2 separate regions of the Homo sapiens genome follow, and region 2 is linked to region 1. Evidence: fine-mapped expression QTL. A gene starts in region 1. The other region holds a variant in brackets. All regions are shown on one strand. Distances are between the middles of the regions.

The links. PIP is the estimated chance that this variant, and not a neighbour inherited with it, causes the effect.
Region 2: its variant is the best candidate, but not a certain one, in a credible set for the expression of LINC01398 in thyroid (GTEx, PIP 0.68).

Annotation. Positions count from the first base shown.
Region 1 is chr1:46,448,078-46,452,462 of GRCh38, reverse strand. LINC01398 (long intergenic non-protein coding RNA 1398) reads left to right here and starts at 2,759. Exons shown (of 3, transcript NR_121680.1): 1 at 2,759-2,976. RefSeq lists enhancers at 3,619-4,132, 4,133-4,385.
Region 2 is chr1:46,396,727-46,401,111 of GRCh38, reverse strand. The region is part of intron 1 of FAAH (fatty acid amide hydrolase); the gene reads right to left. Among named protein-coding and RNA genes, the nearest start is that of FAAH, 4.6 kb to the right of the region's middle. The variant C/T (reference allele first, on the strand shown) is at 2,273.

The DNA of each region.
Region 1 (4,385 bases):
ACCTCTCCATATCCTCTGGTAGTCAGAAGAGAATCTGTTTCCTTGGGGTGCTAAGCCCATAATCCTCTCTTCCATAGCCACCATCAGACCACCTGGGACTCTGTTGCTGAGGACATGAATAATTAGACATCCTCCAGAATGCTGAGCCCCTCACCTCCACCCATGGCCACCCAGGCCCACAGACGATACTCCACCCCCAGCCCCACTCTGCTTCCTCTTGTCTCTCATGCTGCTGAGTCCCCACCCCACCCCAGTCACCATCCCTTGCCCTGGGACTCCATTCTTTGTTAAGATCTCCTCCCTTTCTGGGCCTCAGTTGCCTCATCTGTAAAATGGGAATAACAATGCCTTTCTATGCCCATCATCCTGGAGCTGGAGAAGCAATGCCAGGACTCAGAGGGTAGACCTCAGTCTCCTCAAGTCTCAGAATTCTTCATTGGACCATGGGGGTCATCTTAACTCCAGAGGAGTTGTCAGTAGTTGTGGCCGATTTTGTGGGTGATGTTAAAGGAAACAAGACTCCCAGGCATCCCAATATATATACACACCCAGCCATCTCCCAAGGAAGCTGGTATATCAAGTAGTCAAGAGGTAGAATCCTCCAAGCCCAGGTGCAGGAGAAGGTTGAGTCCTAAATATGAGGGGTGCTCTGTCCCAAGCATACAGCTGAGGAGGTCTGAGCCAGGCCCTAGTCCTCTAGCCCAGGCTCTGGCAATACAGGTGGCTTCCAGCTCTTAGAGACCTTACCCCCTACTCCCAGCAACATGGGGCCTGACTGAACAGTTGTCCAAGTTTCCCTGACTGGAAAGCAAAAGAGGTTACTCCCTACTCCACATCCCTGCCCACTTCTCCCGATCAGCCTTCCACAGGGGGCCCCCTCTCCTCCCCTCTCTTTACTTCCCTCTCCTGCTCCATAGCACTCTGGAAAACTTTCTTTGATTAACCTCTCCCAGCCAAGAGCATTCAAAGAGGCTGTATAGTGCAGTGGTTGAAAGCACCAGCTTTGGGGCCAGAAAAGCCCCAAATCACAGCTCTGCCCTTTGGCTGGGTGATCTTGGGCTCTTCATTTAATGTCTCTGAGCCTTATTTCCTCATCCTCATCTGGCAAATGAAGCCATAAATGCCTGGGTCTAGGATTGTGTGACGATCACATGAAGTCATGAATGCAAAGTGACTGGCATAGAGGAGATGCTCAGCAAATGCCAGCTGCCATCTCCCCCCAACCCCATGCTACATCTAACTGTGTCTCAGTTTTCTGCTGCACTTAGAGGATAAGGATGAGAGCTGAGGGTGGGGAGAGAAGGAAGAGCAGCAGCAGTAGCAGCTTCAGGAGGCTCCTGATCACTTAGAAGAGATGAAGGCTGAGCTACAGTAGGAGAGACTCAGGTTAACCCTGAGAGGGACTTCCCATACTGAGACCCTGGAGGAAGCCACATTTCAAAGGCCCCGCGTAAGTTCAGTCTGTTCCCAGGACCATATCCTTATCCTAGAGGCAGCTCCGAGGAGGCAGCAGCTGCCCTGTCTGGGGAGCAGTGGGGGAGGTGAAGAGTTCACTGGGCTCCGGGGCTGTGGGCTGCAGGCCTCCCACCCAGCCCTGGTGCCCTGGCCTGGCCCACTGTGGCCACATAAAAGGTGACGGATGGTTAATAGGGGAGATAACAGGATTCATAAGGGAAATTTATCGGTCACTCTGGTGGTATAAATATGTTTATAGCGGACCAAGGGGAAATGAAGAAGCCCCAATAAATCACCATGAAGCCACCAGCCACTAATAGGCAAGCAGCAGTGGGAACCCCAGTGTTGGCGATTGCAGACACCCCCTCTGGCTGCCCGCTAATGGCATGGCGGGGCTGGAGACTCATCAAGCTGGACAGACGCCCACCCCACGCCATGGCAGGAACAAGACCCCAGGGGCCACCTCTGCTGGACCTGAGCTGCCCTGCCTGCTGTGCAGCCCCCACTTCCCCCAGTCTGGACTCAGCCAGGCTGGAAGGGCTGAGGGAACAGGGCAGGGGGTATATGGACCAGGTCTAGGAGGCTTCATGGTGCACAGGTTAAAGAGACTCTGGAGTAAGAACTGGCTTCAAAACTTTATCTGCCATTTCCCAATCCCTGCCTGTCTTAGAATTTCCTTGTTTGCAAAATGACTTAGCAATCTTAGAAAGAAGCTGTTGTGAAGAGTAGAGAGATAATCCATTATCATAGTGCTTGGTATTTTGTAGCCTCAAAAATGGCACCTCAGCCTCCTGAGTAGCTGGGACCACAGGCATGAACCACCACGCCCAGCTAGTTTTTTTTATAGAGACAAAGTCTGTTGCTCCTGAGCTCAAAAGTGCCAGGATTACAGGCGTGAGGCACCTCCCCTGGCCAGCAACATTTCATAGATGAGGAACCTGAGGCTCAGAAGTTGAGGCTTGCCTGGGATCCCACAGCTAGAAGAGAAAGGCTCTGTTTGATTCCCAAGATGAGAATCTTCTCACTGCCCCAGTGTAGGCCCCATTCCTTCCTCAAAGTCACTGGGGGTTCCCTGAACCTCTTCCCCCAGAAGAGACCTAGGATTTCAGGGGCCGTGAAGCATTCAAATCAAAGCCCCGGGGCTCTTGCGGTGACTTGCTGGTGCTGATGACAACTCTCCATCTACCCCTTCCCTCCCTGCCCCTGCTACTTCCTGTACCCGTCTCCCCAAGCAAGGGCTGGACTCAGCTTCTGTGACCTCACCCCAGTACTGTGGTTGCCTAAAGCCTTCCATCTGATCTGTATGGGAGGCCCATATCTGGGCTCACCAGCCCTGCCATCTTTGTCACAGCCTCTGTCCAGGCCAATGTGTCCTCCAGCTCAGCTTACTCCTTCATTCATTTTTTCAGGAAACATTCAAGGACCTTCTTCCAAGGGCACAATACTGAGCAACATGGACAAGGTCTGGCCCTATGGTAAAGTCAGGTCTGGATCATGGAATTGAATGGGGTGTGTTGCCAGGTATCGTGGGACTCATGCCTGTAATCCCAACACTGGGAGGTTGAGGTGGGAGGGTTGCTTGAGGCCAGGAGTTCCAGACCAGGCTGGACAACACAGCAAGACCCATGTCTACAAAAAATTTAAAAAATTAGGAGGGCATGGTGGCATGTGCCTACAGTCCCAGCTACTTGGGAGACAGAGGTGGGAGGATCACTTTAGCCCAGGAGGTTAGGGCAGCAGTGAGCTATGATTGCACTACTGCACTCCAGCCTGGGTGACAGAGTGAGGCCCTGTCACTAATAATAATAATAATAATGAGTGTATTGTGTTGAGGCTAAGGTAGCACAGAGGCTGGGGAGGGCAGGAATCACAGAATGAGTAGAGGGAAGGCAGGAAAAGCATTTCCAGAGGAGGGAACAGCTTGAGCGGGTGGGGAGGAAGCAGGACTTCCTGGGCCCACTGAGGCTGGCTGGTCTCCCGGTTTCTCTCTCAATGCTGAAAGGCTGCGCATCATCTCCTACATAAGCTCCACATCACTTTGTCCCTATCCTCAAGCCCTCCTCCCTTTACTCGTGGTCATGCTGTCCAACCATCGTTCTTACCTCCACCCTGGACAAAGCCGCGGCCTCCTCCCCAGTTTCCTGCCAGGACGGCCGGTCCCTCTGCAAACTACGCCCAGCCCAGCGCTGCCTGAGCCCCAGATCTAACCCCAAACCCCTAGTCTAGGGGACTCCCTGCCCAGTGCCACAGTCAGCAGTGCGGAGGGCCTGCGTCCTTACACAAATGCCAATGGAAGGGGAACAGGGCCTTGGAGGTCCTGAGACCCCACCTCTCCTCGCCTGCTCGGGGGAGAAGAGGAACTGAGCCGCCTTGGCTCCCGTCCGGCCCTCCGCGCGTCTCGCTGAATCTCGGTCTCTCCCCGCCTCTCCTTCGTGTCCCAGACTCTCCAGTCCCTGCCTCTCCGGCTCTCTCCCGGTCTCGGGCTCCGTTTCTCCGTCTCTCTCCCTCCCGAGGCCCCCTCCCCAGCCGGGCGGGGTAGATCGCTCCGTAAATAGGCGGATGGCCCGGGGCGCTGCGAGCGCAGACACTCGTTTTTAGAGCCGGTAATTGACTCCTTTCAGTTGATAATTCATGGCTTGCATATGCGCTTTAATGCGGGCGCCCCGGGAGGCGCGGCAGGCGGGGCGGGAGCGGGGCGCGGGCCTGCGCGGCCGCCCGTCCATCCGTCCGTCCGTGTCCGCGGGAGACGTGGGCGCTCCCACCCGGGCTGCCTGCCCAGCGCTCCCGAGGCCGCGCGCGGCGGAAGGGGCTTGAGCTGGGCCGGACGCAAAGGCCGGGCGGTCCCTGGGCGGCGCAGGGCCTACTGGCTGGTCCTTCGAACTGAATGCGGGCGGGGGCATGTGGGCACCCCTTCCCTATGCAGCCAAAGG
Region 2 (4,385 bases), 51 kb after region 1:
TCCCCCTCCTCCCCTCCCCACTTCCCCCTCTTCCCTCCCCAATTTCCCCTCCTCCCCTCCCCTGGTTTCCCTCCTCCCCTCTACCCTTTCCCTCCTCCCCTCCCCTGGCTTCCCCTCCTCCCCCTCTACCCTTCCCTTCCTCCCCTCCCCTTGCTTCCCCTCCTCCCCCTCTACCCTTCCCTTCCCTTCCTCCCCTCCCCTTCCTTTCCCTTCTCCCCTTCCCTTCCTCACCTCCCCTTGCTTCCCCTTCTCCCCTCTACCCTTCCCCTCCTCCCCTCCCCTCTTACCCTCCTCCCCTACCCTGGCTTCCACTCCTCCCCTAAGCACCTCTGACTCCAGGCTCTCCACTCATCCCACATCCCCCAGATCCCCTACCCAGCCCGAGGCAATGGAGCCCAAACCAGCTCACTGGGCTATTCCTGTCACCTGTCCACCTTCCCTGTCCTTCCTCTAAGCTCATCACCTGCCCGACTTTTGACCAGCTCCTCCTTATGTATCCTGTACCCTGTACTCAGGGGAGGCCCCGCCATCCATCCAGGTGTTCAGGAAATGAAACAGGTGTCTTTCTGGCTCCTCCTTCCCACCACCACCTGCATCCAGTCACCAAGCTAAGTAGCTCTGAAAAATGGTCACCTCTCCATCCCCTCTACCAAGGCCCTCACCGGGCCTCAGACTCATCCTTGTCTCCTAGGTCACACGCGGCCACCCAACTGCTGCCCTGCCCAGGTCCTGCACCTCCAACCCACACTTTCCACTAGGGCCAGACAGTGCAAAACCCAACCTGGCCTTGCCTCTCCCCTTAAAATCCCCATCTCATCACACCACAGGCTCCAGAGCATATTCCAGGAGGTGCTTCCAAGCTGTGGTCCTCTCAGACTCATGTGCACCTCTCCCCACCCAGGCACCACTGCCCCCTCCCACCCCCCACACCCCAGAGCCTGGCGCCTGCCCTCTCCGAGCACATGCCACAGCCTCTGCCCCCTGATGTCCTCAGTGTCAGGAGCACTTCCCTGAATTCATTGAACTGATAGAGTACTTACTTTGGATTTTTTTTCTAACACAAGGAGCTACAAAGAAGAAAAAATGGGTTCAAGACTTCTCCCCAAACACACTAGATAATCCTCTTGATATATTCTTTAAAGGTATACAAAATGAAAAGTGAGCATTCCCTCCACCCCTGGTTCTCCTTGCACAGTCCCTCCTCTATAAAGGAAAACTATAATTAACAGTTTCTGGTGTACTCTTACAGGAAAAGAAAATATTTATGAAAAACCCACCATGTCAACAGTTGTCTATATATATTCTTTTTTGCACAAAGGAATCATACTATACACACAGTACTGCATCTTGCCTTTCCCATCTCACAATGAAAATCAAATTTTGCTTTATTTTTGTTTTCATTATATAAATACAGGTTCATTGTATTTTAAAAAATGCCTAAGAGTATGGAGAAGGACATCGAAATCAGCAGAGCATTCACCACCCTGGAATAACTGCCACCTGACAGTCCGGTCACCAACTCCCCCGACCTCGCTACAAGGCGCCCACAGAGTGCCTGTGCACGGCAGCTAGCAGCTAGCAATGTGCTCCCCTCCACGCTCAGCACACATTTTCATTCTTTCCTATGTTCTTGCCTGTTGACAGTTAATGACACAGCTGCTAACAGCTATTTTTAAATCTTCAACTAGTGTCAGGCAGCTGAGACATTTTCTCCTAGACACCAAAGTAAGTCTGCACCTCCAGAAGACCAATCAGTGAACATGCGGAAACCTGATTTTGCGGAGAATGCAGGGAAGTATAGTATACAGGTAACATCTAAACCTGTGGCCACCTGCATGCACAATTTTTCAAGAGAGGGATACTCTACCAATCACTTAGGAGGCATTGCCCCTCCTCCATCTGTTTTGTTTTCTCCTTCTGAACCACAATGCCAGTGGGATTGATAAGCGGGTTGTAAGAGATGTAGGAAAAACCATTCAGGGTAAAACAAAACTGCATGTACAAAGGCATAAGGGCATAAATAGGTGTTCTGTGATGTCTCTCCCAGCTATACTATTCTATTGATGGTGGTCCTTCTCTTCGGTCTAGAAAAGATATCAAAACTTATTCAGGGGGCAGGGTGGGAAAAAATGGGTGAAGCGTCAACAGAATTACCAGAAACACATTTTTCTCTAGATTTGCTCAAGAGTTTAGAGAGAGGTGAACTATTTTGTGAAAATTCAGAAGGTGTTTAGGTACCCCTTCATCCAGCTGTGTCCTCCTTGGACACAGC[C/T]AAGAATCCGGGAGTGGTGGCTCACACCTGTAATCCCAGCACTTTGGGAGGCCGAGGCAGGCGGATCACCTGAGGTCAGGAGTTCGAGACCAGCCTGGCCAACATGGCGAAACCCTGTCTCTACCAAAAATGCAAAAATTAGCTGGATGTGGTGGCAGGCACCTGTAGTCCTAGCTACTCCAGGAGGCTGAGGCAGGAGAATCACTTGAACCCGGGAGGCGGAGGTTGCAGTGAGCCAAGATTGAGCCACTACACTCCAGCCTGGGCAACAGAGCAAGACTCTGACTCAAAAAAAAAAAAGAATCTTGGTTGCCAAATCGCTTTGTCCAGAATCTATCAGACAGGAGCTTTACTACAAATCGCTGTGTTCTCCCAGGGCCTGCTGGAGCCCTGCTTATCTCAGGTGCCCCCTTGTGATTCAGGGCTGGGCTAAGAGCCCCAGAAGAAAGGTTGCCCAGACAGTCACAGATCCTACCTGCCCATCATTCAAGGACTCCAGAGCCAAACAGAAGGGTGCCTTAGGAGTTGTAGGCAGAAGGGAGGAGAGGCGGGGGAAAGAGCTGTTCCCAAGCCTGGGCTGGGTTCAGCTAAAACTCCCACGTCCTGGCCGGGTGAGGTGGCTCACACCTGTTATCCCAACACTTTGGGAAGCCAAGGCAGGGGGATCACCTGAGGTCAGGAGTTCAAGACCAGCCTGGCCAAGATGGTGAAATCCCATCTCTACTAAAAAATACAAAAATTAGCCGGGCATGGTGGCAGGCACCTGTAACCCCAGCTACTAGGGAGGCTGAGGCAGGAGAATTGCTTGAACCCGGGAGGTGGAGGTTGCAGTGAGCCGAGATTGCACCAGTGCACTCCAGCTGGGGCAACAAAGTGAGACTTCATCTCAAAAAAAAAAAAAAAAAAAGAGTTCAAGACTAGCCTGGCCAACATGACGAAACCGTTTATACTAAAACTACAGAAATTAGCCAGGCATTGGCCAGGCGCGGTGGCTCATGCCTATAATCCCAGCACTTTGGGAGGCCGAGGCGGGCGGATCACCTGAGGTCGGGAGGTCGAGGCCAGCCATGGCCAACATGGTGAAGCCCCGTCTCTACTAAAAATGCAAAAATTAGCCAGGCATGGTGGCAGGCGCCTGTAATCCCAGCTACTCGGGAGGCTGAGGCAGGAGAATCGCTTGAACCTGGGAGGCAGAGGTTGCAGTAAGCCGAGATCGCACCATTGCACTCCAGCCTGGGCGACAGAGCAAGACTCCGTCTCAAAAACAAAAAACAAAAATAACAAAAACCAAAAAAAAATCCTACTCCCCCGCAAAGCCTACAAAGCTATTGTCAATCAGGACCCCACCCCTTTGCTGATTACTCAAAACCACAATCACTGGAAACCTGAAAGGTAATTTCCCGCTTCTCCTCCTGAAAGAGCCAAGCTTTCAGAGCCAAAACTTCTGTCCTGGAATAATCTGTTCGTAAAAATAATGAAGAGCAGTTGCTCCAGAGGAAAACCATATAGATGCTGCTGTTTGGAGCCGAAGTGCAGGAAGACCCATCCTGCTACCATCCCACACCCCTGCCAGCCAGGTGGATTCCTTGCAACCAGGAGGGGAGTTCTGCAGGCAAGAGCTGTGAGCAGATCCCTGCTAGTGCTGCCCACGCTGCTCTTGGAGCTGGCAGAACTCAGCTGGCTGCACAGAGCCAGGGATAAACAGGAGGATCTCTAAGGAGGACCTCCAGCGCCCAGCCAGAGAGGGCAACTAGACAGTGAAGAACCTGTGCTTGTGTAGGGGAGATGGCCAATTTGGGTTGACCACCAGGGCCCTCTCACTCTGGAAGGAAGAAACCCTAAAAACTGACTGATGGTGGACTTTTCAGCCAGCTTGGTGAGTGGAGGCTGGAACCAGATATATTTTTTATCTTACTAAATAAATATGAGATATCTTGGCCCCAGGGATGGTTTGGAGTAAATTCATACATTACAGCCAGCCAAAACCGCAACACATGTGTGGGGAAAAGAGAGATCAGACTGTTACTGTGTCTATGTAAAAAGAAGTAGACATAAGAAATTCCATTTTGTTCTGTACTAAGAGAAATTCTTCTGCCTTGAGATGCTGGTAATC